Linked DNA regions of Homo sapiens: region 2 is linked to region 1. A link means that fine-mapping ties the variant in region 1 to the expression of a gene that starts in the linked region. Tissue or cell type: whole blood. Region 1 holds a variant in brackets; the other region holds the start of a gene. All regions are shown on one strand. Distances are between the middles of the regions.

Region 1 (5,220 bases):
CTTCTTCCTCCACACAGGCCTGGCACTGGCATGGGTTGCTGAGAAGGCCCCTGAAGCAGCATTTCATCACCACCATGGCCTCCAAGAGAGCGGTGCCTCCTATGAGCCCTAGAGTGCAGGTTCTCCAAGGGCCACTGAGGCCCTGAGAACCTTCCTCTGCTCACCGTCAAGGTCAGCCGGGACCTCGGAAACTGGTGTTCCTCACTCTCCCTCTCATGTAAACACCTCTGGCTGACCTGGTCGTGGGAGCAGGCTCGGACCTGTGAGGCCAGGCAAGGGTCCCTGGTGAGAAGGGCCTGTTCACCTCCCCTGCCTCCTGCCAGTCACTGTGGTTCTCTCCGGGGTCATCATGGAAGTCTCCTTCTTGGTTCTTCGTCAGCCAAGAGTGACAGGAACAAGAACAACAAGAGGACCTCGTGCAAGGAGCTCCTGATGCCTTCCCCAGTCCATTTGTCCACCCCTTGGGTGGCTCAGACTCAAGCTGCTCTTCTCTCTACGTCTGCTCCTAAACACTGGGGGGTCATCACTCAAGGATAAGGGCTTTTTTTTTTTTTAACCAACAATATCTTTGCTCTAAAGCAAAGCAGGGCTAAGGATGGAGAGACAGAGACCTCCCATCTTTGCTCCTTCACCTGTCAATCAAAAGGGCAATAAAGTGATTGAAAAGGCATAAAAACAAAGCTCAGAGAGGAGAAGACAGGAAGACTCGGCCAGGAGGGAGGACTGAGCAATCTCAGGTAAAGCAGGAACAGGGAAGCCCAGCTACCACCCAGGGGATCTGCGCCAGACTCAGGAAACCTCAGAAGTCAGGGGTGTCAAGGAGCCCGGGTGATTGTGAGGCACCTCAGGCATGCAGGGGCAGCTGGGCAGTGAGGGTGGAGGACACCTTGCTGAGAGGGGTGAGTGGAGCCCCCCTGTGGAGAGTGGGATACCTCACCCACCTTCCAAGCTCCCAGAATGTCAAAGGCCAGGCTCATACCCCCAGGCAGGAGGTCAAAGAATTAAAGGACCTCTCTCTTGGCTGTGGAGGGAAAATCTACAAATGCAGTCTTTGGACTTAGGAGTCCCCAGTGGAAGAACTGGGCCATCTCCACTGCTGTGAGGTGAGGGCCACTCGTAAGCAAGCCCCCATACGCCTCCTACAGCTGTTGGGCCTTGGCTGCAGAGCTGTTGGGCACTTGGCTGCAGAGCTGTTATCAGCCAGGGTCCCAGCAGGAAATCCATGACACGCTCAAGCTTGGTAAATCGAGAAAAGTTTAATTAAGGAACTGCTATTGAAAAGCAATAATCAAAAAAGAACTAATGGCAAACGTGCAGGCAGTCTTGGAATACCATGGGAGAGCTGCAGTGCCCTGCCACCAGCACAAACTCCAGTCTTGAAGGACATGCCTGAGCAGTTAGTGGAACCCAGGAAGGCCACAGGACAGCAGGGATGCCCAGCAAGGCCTTCAGGAGAGGGATGCAGATGACTGGAGGAAACCTCTATGGGAAAGAGCCCGGCTGCATCTCCTCCCCACACACCATCCACTCCCATTGGAAGCACATGTGGCTGCTTCCTGCATGTGAGTGGGTTGGGGTGGGGGGTCTGTGTGGAGGATGCAGGCCAGAGACCCAGGGAGACCCTAACATGACACAGACCCAGAGAGAAACCTGGAGGAAGCCGAGTGGATGGAGGGAGTAGGACGCAGACAAACCTATGATATTCGCAGAGAAACAGGGTGGCCGTGAAATAAGAGCAGACACCGCAAAACTACACACAGAATCTTTCAATTAAAAGTAGAATAGACATAAATAATTTAATAGAAATGTTGAATATTAGACTCATTTACATCTCACAGAAACAGAATAAAAAGATGCACAGATGAAGAATTAGGGAGGAATGAAAAAAGAAATAGAGAATCAACCCAGAAATTCCAATACCCACTTAATGAGAAGAGAGACCAGAGAGGTCAGACAGGAGAGACCAGCAAAGAAATAACTCAAACAAGTGGTCCAGAACTGCAGACAGGAGCCCAGATTGAGAGAGTAGCGCATGCATGAAAGAACAGAGTAAAAACACCTGTGTCATCCACATCCTCATTGCTGAGACACTTCAGGCAGAGCTCACCAGCAGCCCAGGGGCCAGAGCCACAGGCCCCAGCACTCTCGTGGCAGAACTGGAATGGCTGAGACCTCCCTACAGAACGCTGGAGTCTGCAGGGCGGGAAGTGAAGCCTTCTCAGTTCTGAGAGACATTTCTTGCAGCCTAGAATCCTGGTCCCAGAAAGAAAAGGTCAAGGAGAGAATGGCGACGTCTCCAGACATTGCAGGTCTCAAAGGGTTCCTTCCACACAGGGTAACTCAGGCAGCCCTGAAGGTGAGGAGCAGGGAGACACAGGGAAATGTGGCCAGAGCCTTAGGAGCTGAGGCAGTGGGGGCCTCAGGGACGCCATGGCTGGACCTTCGATGTGCCTGATCGTCCAAGGGTCTTTCTTATTTCCGTTAGGAAGTATGTGGCTAGAACAGTGGTCCCTTCCTAGAAGTCTAAGGAAATAACAACTAAAATGCAACAGCTTCTAACCCCAGAGGAAACGGAGTGCATGAAGGGAAACTTAATCATTTTACA[A/G]TTACACAGCTCAGCTGAGAATAAGCTCTGCGTGATCACAGGATGGCAACCTGGAATACTGAGGTCGCCACAGAGTGTGGCTATCGCATTGGAGGAGAAGGGGGTGCAGAGATTGTGGGTGCATGCATGTGCTTAGCAGAAAGGTTAGCTCCTCCCCCATCATTGAAGGAAATCAATAGATGAGCCCCAAAATAAACATGAGACACAAGCATGTTCTTTCACAGGAGGCAAACACCAAGAGACAGAGTGACAGCCGCAAGGACCGAGGGTGGAATAAGGAAGCCGCTTTCACCACAAACCAGGCAGTAATGCTGGCTCTTAAAAGCTTTGCAAGCAGTGATTCTTGCCCTTTTGGCCAAGACCAAGTGTAGTACCTGCTCTTAGCCGTTTAAGAATTTTACATATACAAGTGCAATAAAATTTACAAGTAAAGCCTTAAAAATATGTAGAAAGTTACGTTTTAAATAGCAACAAATAATTTGGGTGTTGATGTGTAAAACAGAGCAGGGCTACTGGGCTTAACTGGAATTTGAAGCAGATGCAGCTTATAAAATTTCAATAATCAGTTTCTGAAATTTTATTTTAAAAAATAATTATGAGTAGAGGACACGTTGCTTTTTATTTTGCTGGTAGTTTTCACTACACACAGACTGCAATTTGGGAATTGCAGAAAGAGACTGAGCTGACCAACTTAGAGCTGTGTCAAGAAAAGTTTCCATTAGGTCCTAAAGTCCCCAGAGGCTAGAGGCTAGGGAGGGCCTGCTACAGGGGCCAGCTGGTTGGACACGGCCTGAGCCCCCACACTCGCCCCCAGATGCTGTGGTTCTGCTGCAAAACCAGACCCTCGTTTCCAGCATCCTCTGTTTCCATGAGCAATACTATAAGCCTTGAGCAGAACCAGAGCCGCGTGCACAGACACGGTGTCATCTCATGATTTCCACCTCCTGAACCATGTGTGGGCACTGACGGCAGACTGGAAAGCGGAAAGCTGCGGGATGTAGTCCTTGCATGGACCCCATGGCCAGGACTACCTCAGAACTTCTGAGGGTTATGTTCCAAGTTCATTCCTGCCCCTGCTCAGGCCCCAAATCTGCCTGCATCTGCAAAGCCCTAGAGCTTGCAGTCCTTAGACCTAAATAAGTGGCTCCTGCTCCCACCAGGCCAGGCCAGTTAGGAGAGAGGGTCAAAGTCATAGGTCACAGAGTGATGCAAAGGATGATGAGATCAGGCAGTGGGGCTTCAGTCTGGGGGCTTCCACAGTGGTCCCAGCCTGTAGCCATTGCCTCTGCACCTAGCCAATGCACCACCAGCCCCCAAGACTTCCCTAGAGGCAGAGGAGGTGATGATAAGGGGACGCTGTGAGGGGTCTTCTGGTCAACTTGCCTTTCTGTGGCCTTTTCCCCTCTTCCCAGTGGAGCAAATTGTTTCCCTGTAGGAGAAGAAAAACTGGACGCCTGTAACCCATGGCAGATGAACAAGAGAAAAACAGAAGTTTATTAATCCACACACCTCATGCGTGGGTGGCAAACTCCAGGGGAAGACGCACAAATCTGCAGGAGGTGGCCCAGAACCCTAGCTTATCTTCAACTAAAATAAAGAAAGAAGATGGGGGTGGCCGGCAACGGGGAGGTGACCAGAAAGGCAGGTGACCAAGGCCACAACTTGCTGTGGGCTTGTAATAGAGCTTTCTCCTCAACAAGTGTCTCTTGTAACTGAGTTTCCCTCTTCTTCCTGGATCCCAGAGGAGACACCCGGCAGGTAGAGATTCCTTCACAGAGGTAAATTCCCCTTCCAAAAGGGCGACTTCTTAGAGCTTCTCCTGCAGCTGCCATTCCTCAAAATCCTTGTTCAATGAGGCACACTCTGGGATGGGGCCTTCTCTCTCCTGAAGGTCCCACGGGAAGGCCTGGGCTGGGTACCAGACTCTCTTCCAAGCCAAACAACCTATCACCTGGAAACAGCCACTTTTAACCACAAGTGATGAGAAATGCTTTATTCTCTATTTGGATATTTTTAAGTGCCTCTGTACAACTGTCTCTGTCACCAAGCCAGTTCCACTGATCAGAGCACTGCAGGGGACATCAGATCGGGGATCCCCAACCCCCGGGTCATGGACCAGTACTGGTCTGTTGCCTGTAAGGAACTGGGCCACACAGCAGGTGAGTGACAGGTGAGTGAACAAAGCTTCATCTGTATTTCCAGCTGTTCCCCATTGCCCATGTTACCAGTTGAGCTCTCTCCTCTCAGAGTAGTGGTGGCATTAGATTCTCATGGGAGCACAAACCCTATTGTGAACTGTGCACAGGAAGGATCTAAGTTGCATGCTCCTTATGAGAACCTAATGCCTGATGATCTGTCACTGTCTCTCATCACCCTCAGATGGGACCCTCTAGTTGCAGAAAAACAAGCTCAGAGTTCCCACTGATTCTACATGAGATGACTTGTATAATTATATTATAATGTAATAATAATAGAAATAAAGTACACAATAAAGATAATGTGCTTGAATCATCCTGAAAGCATCCCCCCACCACCAGGTCCATAGAAAAATTGTCTTCCATGAAACTGGTCCCTGGTGCCACAAAGCTTGGGGACCACTGCTTTAGGGTGGAGAG
Region 2 (5,220 bases), 52 kb before region 1:
GATAAACTGTGGTACACCCAAACAGTGGAATACTATTCAGTGCTAAAAAGAAACGAGCTACAAGCCGTGAAAAGAAATGCAGGAACCTTAAATGCATCTTTCTAAGTGAGAGAAACCTACCTGAAAAAGCTACACACTGTGAATGCAACCAAATGACATTCTGGAAAACTATGGCGACAGTACAAAGATCAATGTTTGCCAGGGGTTCCGGGGAGGGAGGGTGCACAGAGGGTCTCTAAGGCAGCAAAACTCCTGTGTGTGACACTACAATGGTGGGCAAACGTCAGTACACATTTGTCCAAACCACAGAATGCACAACGAGTGAGCCCTCCCAGGTGAGGACCATGAGCCCGTGTAGGTCCACAGATTGTAACAAACGCACCATTCTGTGGGGGTGATGATAGTGGGGGGCTGGGGATCCATGAGAACTCTCTGTACTTTCTCCTCAAATTTGCTGGGCACCTAAAACTGGATACCTGAAAAATAGAGTCTATTAAAGTTTTTTCCCCCCAAAACCAACACACACTTTAGATGTACAGATAACAGGCCAGGCGCGGTGGCTCACGCCTGTAATCCCAGCACTTCAGAAGGCCGAGGAGGGCAGATCACCTGAGATCATGAGTTCGAGACCAGCCTGACCAACATGGACAACTCTGTCTCTACTAAAAATACAAAATTAGCCAGGCGTGGTGACACATGCTCGTAATCCCAGCTACTCAAGAGGCTGAGGCAGGAGAATCACTTGAACCCGGGAGGGTGCAGTGAGCTGAGATCACGCCACTGCACCCCACCCTGGGCGACAAGAGCGAAACTTCATCTCAAAAAAAAAAAAAAAAAAGTATAGATGACAATTGTGTAAAGGGAAAATCAGAAAAGGAGCTTTAACGAAGGCACTGCCAGCAATTGAATCTAGCTGGAGGATACGAGGAAGAATCTCCTATTCTTCTACTTTTCCGCATGTTAGAAATTTTTCAAAGTAAGAACTTAAGGCCAGGCGTGGTGACTCACGCCTGTGATCCTAGTACCTTGGGAGGCTGAGGCGGGCGGATCACGTGAGCCCAGGAGTTTCAGATCTGCCTGGACAACATAGCAAGACCCCATTTCCACAAAAACGGTTTTTTAAAATTAGCCAGGTGAGGTGGTGCGCACTTGTAGTCCCAGCTACTACAGAGGCTGAGAGAGGAGAATAGCTTGAGCCCAGGCAGGTTGAGGCCGTAGTGAGCCGAGATTGCGCCACTGCACTCCAGCCTAGTAAACGGGGCAAGACCCTGTCTCAAAATAAAAAATAAAAACTTAAGAAAAAAAAGTGGGTTTCAGGATTCATTAGGAAAAATGGGAGAACATAGGAAGACTCAGTTTAAAATTCTCAAGGCTCTATCCAGAAACAATAATATGGCTCATCTTTGACCAATATTAGTTATTTGTAGCTTCTGCAGTTAACTCTGTAGCCACATATAAATTCTCATCATTACATTCAAGAAGAGAGCTGTTTAGAGTAACTATAACATTCTGAAATTAAAAAAAAAAAAGGCACGTAAGCACTAACGCTACCTAAAAGAAATTTCTCAGACAAGTTCAGATAGTAACCATATTTAAGCGCTTAACATAATCGGCTCCATTTTCCATGAGTTAGGAATGGAATTTAACGTTCATAGAAAATCTCTATCAAGAAGAAACAACTCCAGACCCTAAGAGAAACTCTTCTGCTCAGAAACTATTTCCAAGTCCTCGGAAGACAGGTACAAATCCTTATATTCCATTCGGCCTTAACAGCATCAGGAGGAAGTTGCCACACGTTTAACAGAAAGAGATATTTTATGATCCAGAATGCTGGATTTCTGACCTAAATTTCATTGTACATGAAAAAGAGCACTGCAATGGAAAAAGGGAGGGGGGGGGAGGGGGTGGGGGAGGGCACGTCTAAGGCACACAGGGCCCACCTGGGAGCCCTTTCAATTACAAAATTCTAGACATACCAAACATATCTCTACACTCGTCAGGTAAAGGCCTTTCAGTTTTCAGTACAAAGGACTTCTGCCGGCTTCCTTCAGAAAAATCAAGAATTTAAGAAAATACTTGTTATGCAAACAAACATTTAGCCCACTTAACATTGAGCTACGGTCGTCCAAAGCTGCTTAGTGTCCGCGAGGAGGCCGTCCGGATGCGCGATGATTCAGGCCTTCTCCGCCAGCTCCACCCGGGACGCGAGCACCCGGCGTGGACCTCTGCGTCCCGGGCCCACGACGCCCGCGCCGCGGGGTGCGCGCACTGCGTCCCCGCTCTCCTGGGACTGCGCCCCGAGTAACACGTGCAGGGGGCACTGGGTCCCCTGCAAGCGGCGAGAACGCCGGCAGCCCTGGCCAGTTAAGCGGGGAGTGGGTCCACGCGGACCACAGCGGCAACTCAGCCCAGGACGAGCCTCGGGTCAAGTTCTCCGACTCCGCACTCGGGCACCTAGCGGGCCGCGCCCCGGAGCTACGCGGCCCCAACCTCACCTGCCCGCCCAAACTGTGCCCCCAACTACCCGCACCTCCACCTGCGCGCCGCCCACCCTCGCCCTCCACCTGCGCGCCCCCGGCCTACTAGCACTCCCCACCTGCGCACCCCCTCACCTGCGCCTGGGCGGCGGCGGCGGCGGCCGGTGGCGGCCCCCCACGCAGGCCGTCCTCCTCCTCGGGGGGCTCGTCCAGCAGCACTCGGCCCCGGCCCAGCTTCCACATGGTCAGGCGGGCTCCGGCGTCCCTCCGTCCGTGCGTCGGGCTGTGGCTCCGCGTCCCTCCCGGCCGCCGGACGCTCTGCCTGCGGCTCCTGCGGGACGCGGGCCCAGTGGGCCGGGCGGGGCTAGGCGGGGGCGGGGCACCCCCAGAACTAGGCCCGCCCCCTCCCCACCAGGCCCGCCCCAAACCCTCCCCAGGACCCGGCCCGCCCCCAAACCATCCCCAGAACCAGGCCCGCTCCAAGCCCTCCTCAGGACCAGGCCCGCCCCAAACCCTTCCGAAGACCAGACCCGCCCCCAAACCTTCCCCAGGACCAGACCCACCCCCAAATTCGACGGGGCTCCGAATCCCATCCCCCACAGAAAGGTCAACCCCGGCCCCCTCCTCCCAGTGTGGTCCCCGCCACCGCCCCGGCGAGACCCTCGCCCTTCACTGTTCTACTGAACGACGTCCTCACCCCAGGCTACCCCGTCACCTGGTCCCCCCACCTTGACCCCCACCTACCCGCCCCTAGCTGCTTCCTCACCCGGAAACGCCCCCATCCTGAGCCCCCACCGAGCCCCTAGCCCTGCCCTATCCCCGGTTCCCTGGGTCCTCCTCTACCCCCGAGCCCCCACCCGGCCCCCGCAAATTCCCCTCTCCCGGTTCTCTCCTTCTCCCCCGCCGACCCCCACTTACTCCCGGACTGCCCCCTCCCCCCACCCTTTCCCAGACCCTGGCCGGAGGGCGTGGCCACGTCCGCTCGGGTCACCAAGGCAACGGCCGGGAGCGCAGTGCGCATGCGCGCCGCTGGCGCTCAGGCCGCGGCAAGGCTGAGGGGAAGGTGGAGGGGGCACAGTCCGCGGAGCGGCGCCTGTACCCCAGCGCTTCAGGGCATCCCTCGGGGCCTGGGCGCCGGGCATCCGGGACTCATCCCCTCCGGCGCCCGAGGTCGCGGGATAGTGGGGGCGCCGGGAGGAAGCCTCGCCCAGCCCTGGTGGGCGGTGGGGCCGCTGGGGCCTGGGGCGCCGCGGGCTCGGCCCGGACTGACGGCGGTGGGGGGCGGGGATGGGGCCGTGGTGCCGGGCCGCGCAGAACCCTTGGGACCCCCGCGGCGCCCAGGTTGGGGCTCAGGGCCCGGAGAACGTTTTCCCGCGTGGCTATGGCTTTGTCAGAATCAGGAGCGGGAGAGGCGCCCACAGATTCCTGAGGGCAGAACCGCCTGGTTCCCAGGCCGAAAGGAGCCGGCGAGGCGACCCCCGATCCCGGGACGGAGCCGCGGGAACGGGGGATTCTAGGCGTCCGCTCCCGCCCAGCAGGTTAATTTTTCCCGCGACGCGCTTCGTATCGCTTCTTACACCAAATATGTATTCATGTGTTCAGTCATGTAAAAGCGCATTTTGAAGGAGGATCCAGAACTATGAGCTCCCTTGAAAACTGCAAGCTTCGTAACTTTACGACTCTTAAAAAAATGAAATGTACATTTTGAGTTTCCCAGAAGTGATGAGCAGCAAAGCTTTTAAGATGAAAGGGGCTCTGAACTGCCTTTGGGAGATGCCGGCCAGGATCCCGGAGAACCGAGGGGGTGGCGCCCGTGCCCAAGGCCTGGGGGGACCTGGGGCCCTGGCGCGGGACGCACAGGGAGGGCGGGGGCTGGGCCTGGCAGGAGCCCCCAGCCGAGTGGGAAGAGCCAGATAATAACCTAACGATACTAACCTAACTATACCGTCACCCAGAGAGGAGGGCAGCACCCCTCCCACATGCCTCCCTCCCCCGGTGACCGCTAAACCTACCGGCCGCAAACATCACGAAATAGAATTAAACACTGGCGCCTACTAAGGACCACTCCACCCAGTACAAACTAAATTTGAGAGTTCATCTTCACGCAAATAATAAGAATGTTAAAAATGTATATATGCTCCTTTTCAAACAAGGCCTAATAGGCCTGGCCTCCTGGGCTAGGGGGCTTAGAAAATTGCAAATGCAAGATGGCATGGTGTGGCTCCGGGGTGCTGTCAAAATAAGCACATTGCAAGCACAAACTGATGAAAGTCAAAAACTATCAAACAGAGGTTGCAAAACAAAGTCAGGATCCAAACACAGCCCATATAAAGACGCTACAAATAAAACACAGAAAACCAACTCAGAACACTTGGACAAATAACACAAATCCCCCTGGCTAATGCGAAGGAACACAGGGCTTATGCCCAGACAGCTGGCTTCCTCTCAGTCTAGCAACATCCACTCCATGAATTGTCATTAAACTGTAATCCCCTGCAAATCTATGACAATCTGGAAGAAGGTGAGCCTTGCTAAATAAAAAAGCTAACTTACTGAATATTTTAGACATTTAGCTTTCTTCTGAAGAAGAGCACAGCTAGTCAGGATATCTACAACCTAAAGGCCTGGCACAAATGAGAGGGAAGGGGGTTGGGTGGGAGAAGCCGGTGAAACGGCTGTTACGGAGCAGCAGGCATTTCTGGAATTTTGAGAAGAACTTTCCCGAGTACTATGAATTTGACTC

Evidence for each region. PIP is the estimated chance that this variant, and not a neighbour inherited with it, causes the effect.
Region 2: TDRP starts here. The variant in region 1 is fine-mapped to the expression of TDRP in whole blood (TOPMed, PIP 0.92).

Annotation. Positions count from the first base shown.
Region 1 is chr8:594,098-599,317 of GRCh38, forward strand. No RefSeq gene overlaps it. Among named protein-coding and RNA genes, the nearest start is that of TDRP, 52 kb to the left of the region's middle. The variant A/G (reference allele first, on the strand shown) is at 2,606.
Region 2 is chr8:542,038-547,257 of GRCh38, forward strand. It overlaps TDRP (testis development related protein), which reads right to left and starts at 2,797. Exons shown (of 3, transcript NM_001384899.1): 1 at 2,613-2,797. The coding sequence starts at 2,720. RefSeq lists an enhancer at 3,776-4,276.